Homo sapiens: one gene and its partners. The protein of the gene in region 1 purifies or fractionates together with the protein of each later gene. This does not show direct contact. Each region holds a gene or a part of one and is shown in the gene's direction. Other genes may lie near its edges.

The links.
Region 2: the proteins of FILIP1 (region 1) and MYL4 purify together in Homo sapiens (affinity purification with mass spectrometry; one large-scale study listed by BioGRID and IntAct). This does not show direct contact.
Region 3: the proteins of FILIP1 (region 1) and CAMKK2 purify together in Homo sapiens (affinity purification with mass spectrometry; one large-scale study listed by BioGRID and IntAct). This does not show direct contact.

Annotation. Positions count from the first base shown.
Region 1 is NC_000006.12:75,413,801-75,417,300, reverse strand, and holds part of FILIP1 (filamin-A-interacting protein 1), read left to right. Parts: intron 1-2,104; exon of another isoform or gene 2,105-2,181; intron 2,182-2,322; coding exon of another isoform or gene 2,323-2,328; coding exon 2,329-2,604; intron 2,605-3,500. UniProt on the Homo sapiens protein: By acting through a filamin-A/F-actin axis, it controls the start of neocortical cell migration from the ventricular zone. May be able to induce the degradation of filamin-A.
Region 2 is NC_000017.11:47,221,764-47,224,410, forward strand, and holds the end of MYL4 (myosin light chain 4), read left to right. Parts: coding exon 1-92; intron 93-616; coding exon 617-694; intron 695-1,250; coding exon 1,251-1,279; 3' UTR 1,280-1,294; intron 1,295-1,745; 3' UTR 1,746-1,916; downstream 1,917-2,647. UniProt on the Homo sapiens protein: Regulatory light chain of myosin. Does not bind calcium.
Region 3 is NC_000012.12:121,244,544-121,248,274, reverse strand, and holds part of CAMKK2 (calcium/calmodulin-dependent protein kinase kinase 2), read left to right. Parts: intron 1-3,034; coding exon 3,035-3,135; intron 3,136-3,659; coding exon 3,660-3,702; intron 3,703-3,731. UniProt on the Homo sapiens protein: Calcium/calmodulin-dependent protein kinase belonging to a proposed calcium-triggered signaling cascade involved in a number of cellular processes. Isoform 1, isoform 2 and isoform 3 phosphorylate CAMK1 and CAMK4. Isoform 3 phosphorylates CAMK1D.

The DNA of each region.
Region 1 (3,500 bases):
TTTATCTAACTGAGAAAGGACTAAAAATCTTTATGTTCATGCCAAAGGAAAAGTAATTAATGTGAAATTTCAATATCAGAAAAGAAAAATATTTGTTAAGACAAAATTAACCTCATGGGTCTACCACATGAAATTTTCCATCAGCCAAAGTGAATTAATGTGGAAGGGAATAGGAGACTAAAGCTTTCAACCTGAATAATGATATAAAATAATTACATAATTCTAAAATGGGTGGAATTTTTTGTGTAAAAGCCATTAATATAATACTATAATAAACTTTATTTTAAAATATTAATTTCAGAATGAAATTTTTAGAAAGAACTAATATAAAATTGATACTAATAGATTATTTTCTGTATGTTTGCAGATATAATTGTGATTGAGTAAATGCATGTAACATAATACAATCAGATTTAAATACTGTGTAAGATTAAGCACTTCCTGTGCTTTGGGAACTATTGTCTGGGATTTCTGTTAACTCATGATTTAATGATTTAAATTAAAGTTGTCAAATCAATATTTGGTATGTCATCTCAAAGAGCTTTAAGATCTTATAGAGAAAATTATTTCAGATAAAAAGAATTCACATGTGGTATGAAGTCGTACAGAATCACAATTCAGTTAGGGAAGTCCATGTGTCTTAACTGTGAGCCATAACAGGTCATGAGTTAAATTTGAAACTCTTTATTCATCACTTCTTTTTTTTTTTTTTTTGGATTGGGGCTTTAGTCAGTCCATTCTGCCCACAAATAAGCTGTGATAAAATACAGTAGGTTTGTTCCAAAGTGCCCTGGCTTCCATTACAAAGAAACTTCTATTCTTTGTTGACTAGGGAAACCCAAAAGATACTCTAAAATTGGGAACTAATCATTGAGTGAACCAGAAAACAGGGTGCTAGCATCAAGAAATATTCCTTTGGTTTATATTGTTAAAAGCTGGGGTGCTGTAGAAAGTTCACACACACATAAAAGCGTCCATTTGCTTACGAGTTCAATTTTTAAAAAAACAGCATTAATGTAGATTTCAAGATTCATTGGAAGAATTGGATATTCACTATCTGAAAGGAAACATCACACTGTGTTAATTTTTGTGTTACAAACCTAATGTTTTTAAAAAATCTTTCCTTAGTTTCTTAAGTATGGTTGGGTTCATAAAGGAAATTTACTTTCATATAACAAAGTCCCTATATTTTATCTGGAATTAGTGATGAAAATCTTTTTGCTTAGCTGTTCATGGTAAGGGCTATTTATACTGTGAGTTTTTAAATAAGCCCATGAGCTAATCTACTATATTTAAGGGTTTAGGCAAAATTTGAAATACACCCCACAGGATATTAGAGCTCTCTTCACAGCACTTTGAGACCTAGCCTGTGAGTTCGGTGTGTTTGTTTGTAACATACCTGTTGGTAGAATTCTTTTGCTCAGAGACTGACAGAGAAACTGTAAAGCATTCCTCATGGGATGACTTGAATGTGCTTCTCATGGGACAAGTTAATATCTTAGCTGCTGCTTTGTCTTTTTTCCTTATTTTACCTCAAAATACTGTTTTAAGTTTTGATTTTGAAATTGATTCATTTTCTCCCAATTCTTTGTGCTCTTATTACTGTAAATGACATTAAAAGACCTGATTTTAAAATAGAGGCTATGGGAAAATAGAATCGCATATCACTAAAAATGACACCACCCTCCTCTTCCCTTTGCTTTTCCCTTTTCCTCTGTCCATTTTAAGCCCCCACCCTATGTGGGCTTTTTTTTTTTTTTTTTTTTTCCACACTGTGACATCCAACTGGCTCCTGGCAGGGTTTCAGGTTTGATTTTTCTGATAAATAAATAAACTTTTAATTTTATCTTAGAACAGTTTTTATTTATTTATTTTTATTTTATTTTAGAACAGTTTTTATTGATTTTTATTTTATTTCAGAACAGTTTTAGATTCCTAACATTATTACAAAGCTAATACGCATATGCCCTACACCCAGTTTCCTCTATAATTGACATCTCCATTAGGATAGTATAGTACGTTTGTTACAATCAATGAACCAATATTGATATATTATTATGGGGGCTATGTAACAGCAATATGACTTAGCACTATTGATACTGACCTTGATCATTTGGCTTGAGGGGTTTGTCAGGTTAAAATCTTACTTTCATTTTTTCTGAAGACCATCAAAGGGGTTTCCTGAAAATTTTAATGACATGTTAATTTGATTTTTCCTTATTGGCGATGTGGTAAAGCTGCTATAAGTTTCTAAGTATTTAGGCAAAAATAATTTTGATGGTGGTAAAGAACATCTTATCTTTTTTTATGTATGTGTTGTAGGTGGGAATGAGATCTCGAAACCAAGGTGGTGAAAGTGCATCTGATGGGCATATCTCCTGTCCCAAGCCCTCCATCATCGGCAATGCTGGTGAAAAAAGTCTCTCAGAAGATGCAAAAAAGAAGAAGAAATCAAATAGGAAGGAGGATGATGTCATGGCCTCAGGAACTGTCAAACGACACCTAAAAACATCTGGAGAATGTGAACGAAAAACTAAGAAATCCCTGGAGTTATCCAAAGAAGACCTCATCCAACTACTCAGTATAATGGAAGGGGAGTTGCAGGTAGAGTCAAACTTTCCCAACTGTTATTGTGTCTTTGGTTTCTAAGCTATAAAATAAGAGAATGTAAATCTGTTCCCCTCTCTGAGTAATGAACTTTATGGGGAAAGGAGAATGTTTCCCTTATTTCTAAATCCCTAGTGCCTGGCACAAGTTTGCACTAAATAAATATTTGTTGAATGAATGCTAAATGAAAAAGTGCTGATTCCAACTTCAAACTTCTCTAGAAGCAGAAAATTTCTTCATTATATGATTTTGGTGGTGATTTAATACAGATCCTTTCGGTCAGTAGGTAATCAATTAGGTTATCTAATTTAGACATTGACTGTGACTGAAAAATGTAGAAATGCAGTGATTATTAAAATGGAGAGTTCAGGTCAATTGCTAATTTTGCTTTTTTCTAGGAGGTAGAGTGAAAGAGAGAAGGAGAGATAGAGGTAAATAAGGCTTTGTTGAAACCAGCCTTATTGCCCAGTCTTTTCTCTCTTTTTTTAACTTTCAGTCTCAATATTCTACAACATCATAGGAATTGAGATGCACACAAATAAGCAGAGCATTGCATTCATTATGAAGAACCTAATAGTTTCCTAAGCATTTTCACATCCACTATCTCGTATGATCACAATAAAAATGTGGGTATCATCTGTATTTTATAAATGAAGAATCTGAGGCCCAGAAGGATTGAAGGTTTGTCCGGATCTCATCTCAGGCTTCCTGATTCTTCGTCCTATGCTCTTTCCTCTGCCCACCCCCACCAATCTTATTTAGTTGCCATGAGCCATGTCCCTCCCTCCCATTAAATCTATGTTTCTAGGGACCCAGGAGGCAGGCAGGAAGTGAGGATTCTTCTGAGTTTCTGAGCCCTGAACAATTATATTTCTGGAAGTAGAGGAACAATA
Region 2 (2,647 bases), on another chromosome or scaffold:
TGAGGACTTCGTGGAGGGCCTGCGTGTCTTTGACAAGGAGAGCAATGGCACGGTCATGGGTGCTGAGCTTCGGCACGTCCTTGCCACCCTGGGTATGCCAGCTGGGCAGAGATGAAGACCAAGTGGGAGGAATGGAGGGGTGGGAGGTGCCAAGGTGACATATGCTGGTTGGGTGGGGGGTGGTATACAAGGGTCTTTGCATCCTGAGGATAATGACCTGATCCAGGCCCTGTCTCCCTGGGCTCTGCAAGAACAACCATTCCCAGTTGGGTTTGCTCAGCAGGTACCAGGGTTTGGGAGAGGAGGGGAGAGCAGGTTGGCAGAGCAGGGCTTACTACTGAGGCCTGAGAGGTGGGACTCAGGGCTTCTGTCCTTGTCTTTGCCTGAAACACTGAGGCTCTGGAAGCTGTAAGGCAGAGGGGGAGGCTTCGGAGACTAGGCAAGACCTTTAGACCCTTGGCCGCACCCTTCAGAACCTCTGGGAGAGGCTTGGTTTGAACCACCTCCCAGATCCAGGCAGTCTTGGACCTTCACACTTAAGGGGGTACTTGGGTATTGCCAGTTCCTCCTTTGCCATCTGTAATTAAGAGCGCACCACCTCCCAAACCCACCGCAGGAGAGAAGATGACTGAGGCTGAAGTGGAGCAGCTGTTAGCTGGGCAAGAGGATGCCAATGGCTGCATCAATTATGAAGGTATTAAGCCGCGCCTTGCATCCCAGGGCAGCCAGGGATGGTAGGATGGGAACAGCTTGGGTGGGGTGGGCCCAGGAGCTGGAGGGTATGTGTCTGAGGTGGGTTTTTGTAGACCCCCCATTGGATGTTGTTCTGTTCCATCTTGTGAGTGAACCTCCTAGTGTAATGGCGGGAGCATGGATTTTGGAGATAGCTCTGTGATATATTAGCTGGTGGGCTTGATTAAGTCACTGATTTTCTCTGAGCCTCAGTTTTCTCATCTGAGGGATGGGGGTGATGCTGGCACCTTTCTCAAGGCTGTGGGGATTCATAGAGATAATGTAGTTCATTCCATTTGTGTTGAGAATCAGCATAGAGAGTGGGCACAGAGCAGAGTCTAGGTATCTGCCCTCCACCCACCTTCTCCCCACCAACCCCCAAATAAGAGCAGGAACTACACAGTCTGGAGAAAGGGGAGCAGGAGGGTTAGAAGTCAGGCAGTGTAGAGAAGGGACAAGTGGTTTATGGGCCTAGAGGCGCTGAGCCACATGGTGGCTGATTTTCACTTTTTTCCTAGCCTTTGTCAAGCACATCATGTCAGGGTGAAGCAGAGTCTTCCAGGTGAGTGCAGCCTCTCCCTCCTGGTCCCTTCCGGGGTCACATAGGGCCTTAAGAATAACACCATGTGCCCTAGAAGGCATCTGTCCCAGCCCTGACCCCTTAAGAGGAAACCTCTTGGGATCAGGAAGTGAGGACAGCCCTGCTCACTCACCATCTCCTGTCTCCTGCCTGCCCTTGCCTGTTCACCCTGTCTTGACCCTATCAGTCACATCCTCTTGCCTCTCCCAGGATCTCTCAAGGCAATGCCCTTCCCTCAGGCCTGGGGCCTCCTGTACAGGCTCCTGGGAGTGAGAAAGCCGATCCCAAGTGGAAGAGAAGGTCCCTGGCCTGTGCTCTTGACCCCGTTCTTCCTCACTTCTTTCCCTAGGTTTTCCCTGGGATCCCCCTGGGTGTGGTAAGGGGCTGGGTCTAGGAGGGTGAAATGCCCTTTCCTCCTAGCACTTTCTTTCAGGTGCCTGGCCCTTGGCTTTAGCCATACCAGGGTGAGTTAAAGAGAGGCCCCGGCTGGGTGAGCTGAGATGGAGTCCTCGACTTATCACCACACCACTGCCCCAAGGACCTTACAGGCCCTCCCTGTTAATAAACAGCTCTAACACGGCCAGGCTGGGCTCTGGGATTCTGACCAGTCTCTGTTTTGTTTGTTTTTTTAAAACTAATTAACGAATTGCATTGGTTTGCGTTGTGTGTGTGTGTGTGAGAGAGAGAGAGATAAAGTCACCTGAGGCCTCATGTGTGCTCAGAGAAATGAGTAGTATCTGGGAGCTAGGAGACAAGGACAAAAGCCTGTGGATCTAGAGATATTGGGGTCAGACCCAGGAGAGCAAGCTCTGGAAGGCCAGCAGCTTGAGGAGTTGTCACCTGGAGGAGTTTTATTCCCTTTGGGCTCACCCTCTACCTAATCACACCTCCAGATGGCAGGCAGAGAGGGGCCAGGCTGAGGCAGGGACTCCTCCTTTGGTCCTTGCTCTTGCTGCTTTTAAACAAAAATTGTTGTAAAATACACATAACATGAAATTTACCATCTTAACCATTTTTAAGCATACAAGTCAGTAGAGTGAGGTATATTCACATTGTTGTGTAACTGTATTAGTCTCTTTTCATGCTACTGATAAAGACATACCTGAAACTGGGAAGAAAAAGAGGTTTAATGGATTTACAGTTCCACATGGCTGGGGAGGCCTCACAATCATGGCGGAAGGCAAGGAGGAGCAAAGGCACATCTTACATGGATGGCGGCAGGCAAAGAGAGCTTGTGCAGGGAAATTCCCCTTTTAAAAACCATCAGATCTTGTGAGACTTATTCACTATCATGAGAACAGCATGGGAAAGTTACCTCCTACTGGGTCCCTCCCA
Region 3 (3,731 bases), on another chromosome or scaffold:
CCTAGCTGGAATTTTAGGCTCCAGGGTGGATGGCGTAGCATATCTCACGTCTGCTGTGTGGGCAGCCACCAGGGGTAGGGGCAGGGACTTCCACGCACACACTCAGAAAGTTCTGCCCATCTCCTGAGAGTGAGAATTGCTTAGGAGCAAGTAGGTCCCCTTTTATGGCCTTGAATTTGGATCCTGACCCAGGAAGAAGGAGCCAGAATGTAGAGTCCTCAGGCCTAACCTTGGAGGCTCTGGGAATCGCCACTGACCAAGTCCCTGTCCAGGAGGGCAGTTAGCTCCAAGAGAGAGACCAAGAGTCCCAGGGATCCAGGTTCCAGGCAGCAGGCTTGGGGACAGAGACCAGCAGGTTGTCCCACCACAGCCACCTCGAAAGGCCTGGTTGCAGTTGGCCAGCACTAGTCCCAGTGGGCCGGCGGGCCCCTGGGCTCTGGGAGGGACCCTTGAGACTGGCTGGAAAGGCACAGAAGGTCCAGCTGTGAAGGATTGCCCCTGTAGGAGCCCAGATGCTGCTCCTGCTCCTCCAGCTTTGCACCTCTCTTCTCTGCTTCCCCACACACTTCCTCTCTCCTCCTCCCAAAGCTGAGCCCTGGCTGGGGCATCCATCCACATCTTCCTCCACTCTTTCCCCACCTGGGGCTGTGCAGGACCTTCACTGTTGAAGACCCACCCACACCCACTCACCCTTCCTCAACCACCCCTTGTGCCTGTAGACGAGGAGACAGCTGGCGTCGGACTCTGCACCCACCGTGGGTTACTGTGTTCCAGGCTCAGGAGGTTCTCAGTCCTGAATCAGTTGCCCTCCCTTTCCTTCCTGGGTCTCTGGGACGGGTTCTTGGGAGAAAGCGTCTGGCCCTGGAGGTCTGGAGTAGGCATTCATTATACGGGAAACACTTGTTGAACACCGAGTGGTTTCTCAGGCCTGTGCTGGGAGCAGGGGCTGGGTGGAGTGATGAACAAAACCCCCATGGCCTCTGCCATGCTTGAGAGGCAGATGCTGGTCAAACCAACAAATGTATGTACAGTGCAGTAGAGGGACCACAGGACATGCCCCTAATGGAGGCACACTTGGACCCACTGGGAAGAAGTGGATAGACACCGAGAGGATGGTAGGGTGTTAACTCCGCCGAGAGAGGGCGGACGGGCTAACACACTGGGTGGGGCCACTGAAGCAGGGCAAGGAAGGTGGAGGGAGGGTGTGGCGAGGTTTTACATGTTTACTCCAAGAGCATGGGTTTGAATCAGGGTTTGAACCAGGGCAGCTGGAGCAGGGATGGGCGGGTAGATACTGGGAAGTGGTCTGACTTGGGACAAGATGGCAAGGTCCAGGCCCCCTGCATGTGTTCATCATTTAGCAAACACGGAGCAGCCAGTGTGTGCCAGGCATAGGTGTCAAAGATGAGCTTAGCCCAGTGCCTGCTCTCAGGGGTAGGGGGCTGGGGGGCTGGGGGAGGGGCTCCTGGCCTTATAAGAAAGATGGACCTGGGAAGAATCAGCCTCCTGTGTGATCAGAGGCCAGTGCAGAGAGATGCAAGGGCTGGGGGCTTCACAGAGGAGGAGCTCCTGCTCTGGGTTGACAAGGCCACAGGGGAGGCGGCAGGGTGGGCTCACCTGGGGAGTGACATCTGCTCAGACACAGAGGAAAGAGGGGCTGGCATGTCCCAGTGACTGTAAGAACCTCAGTAGGGGAAGAGGCCTTCATTCTCTCTCTCTTTTTTTTTTGAGATGGAGTTTTGCTCTCGTTGCCCAGGCTGGAGTGCAGTGGTGTGGTCTTGGCTCACTGCAACCTCCGCCTCCCAGGTTCAAGCAATTCTTCTGCCTCAGCCTCCCATGTAGCTGGGATGACAGGTGCCTACCACCATGCCCAGCTAATTTTTGTATTTTTAGTGGAGACGCGGTTTCTCCATGCTGGCCAGGCTGGTCTCAAACTCCTGACCTCAGGTGATCCACCTGCCTCAGCCTCCCAAAGTGCTGGTATTACAAGCATGAGCCACCACGCCCGCCTCCCCCCCCCCGCTCCTTCTTTTAAATTGAGGTAGAATTCACATAACATAAAATTAAAGTGAACAATTCAGTGACATTTGGGACATTCACAGTGACATGCAATTATCTCCTCAATAGTTCTGAACATTTTCATTACTTCACACCCCCGCCCATCAGCAATGACTCTCCATTCACCTCCCCCCAGCCCTGGCACCCACTCACCTGCCCTCTGTGTCTATAGATTTGTGTATTCTGGTGGAATCCTACACTCTGAGGCCTTTCGGGCCTGGCTACTTTGACGTAGGAGAAGGTTTTCAGGGTCCGTTTGTGTTGTAGCATGGATCAGTGCTTCACTCCTTATGGCTGAATCATGTTCCATTGCACAGACAGACCGCTTTGAGTTTATCTTCTTCAGTTGATGGGCATTTGGGTGTTTGCATCTTTTGGTAAATCAGTGTTTCTTAAACACTTATTTTTCTTGTTAGCAGCAAATGCTTAAAAAGTCAGAAGCTCTGTGAATTCCCAAAACAGCTTGAAGGGGCACCGTGCCCTGGTTGGGGTGGGGTGAGGGGCCCAGTGACTCTTATGGGGCCCTCAGGCCATTCCCTTCATGGGAAATGGCAGCCAAGAGCATCACCAAGAATGACTGGTTCACGTCCTTGCTCCAGAACTTTCCGGGGCTCTCTGGCTGACCACAGGCCAAGTTCCAGACCCCTCTGGGTGGGGATGCTGAGTCAGGGAGTGAGGGGACCAGATCTGGGTTTTGGAAGGGATGGGAGGGAGGGAGGTGGAAAGCAGGGAGGCCTGGGAGAGACGCTGAGCAGTGGCTGAGGGTGTGGTGCAGGACAGCACCTTTTCCCAGAGGATTCTTTCGGCGGGGGTTGGTTGCGGGGTGGTGCTGCCCAGTTTCTCTCAAAGTCTGCCATCGGTCACCAGCCCTGGGAGCTGGCAGGGGCTGGGGAGAAGGAAGAGGGAGGATGTTGCCCAGAATCGCCCCCACATGGCCAAGCAGTTGCCTGCCACCTCCTCTTTTCTCCCTCTTCAGATCCTGGTGAAGACCATGATACGTAAACGCTCCTTTGGGAACCCATTCGAGGGCAGCCGGCGGGAGGAACGCTCACTGTCAGCGCCTGGAAACTTGCTCACGTGAGTGGCCGCCTGCCTTCTTGGGTGGGGGAGTGGTGGCTGGAGGCTAGGCTTGGGGCAGCCCTGCCCAGACCACTCTGCACAGGTCCTCCCTGAAGTGGTGCCATCTGGAGAGACTCAGATGAAACCCACCTGGTGCACTGGGACAGTCAGCACCCCAACCTGGGCTCAGCCCACCTCCTTTTGCTGACAGCTAATCCACCTGAAGTTTACCTTTCTCGGGAACTTGCACTGTAGCTGGGGGGCTCTTGGTCAGTCAGAAGAAAAGCACTTTTGTGGCCCGGGACCGTGAGTGCCTGATGGGGAGGTTTGAGGCTCTGTGCTGGGCGAGCAGTGTGGTCTCACTCAGGACCCTGTGTGTCCATGCAGAGAGGTGTCCACTCATCTGCTGTCAACGCCACCCTGGCTCCAGCTCTATGAAGCTGGTGTTTGGGGTCTGAGTGTCTCAGGGTGGGGGAACGGGCATCCCGTGGATCCCAAGGGTCCCTTCTCACTTCCCTTTTCCCTCCCTCTGGTGATTCCAGCAAAAAACCAACCAGGGAATGTGAGTCCCTGTCTGAGCTCAAGGTAACGCCCGCCTGCCTGTGCCGTAGCCT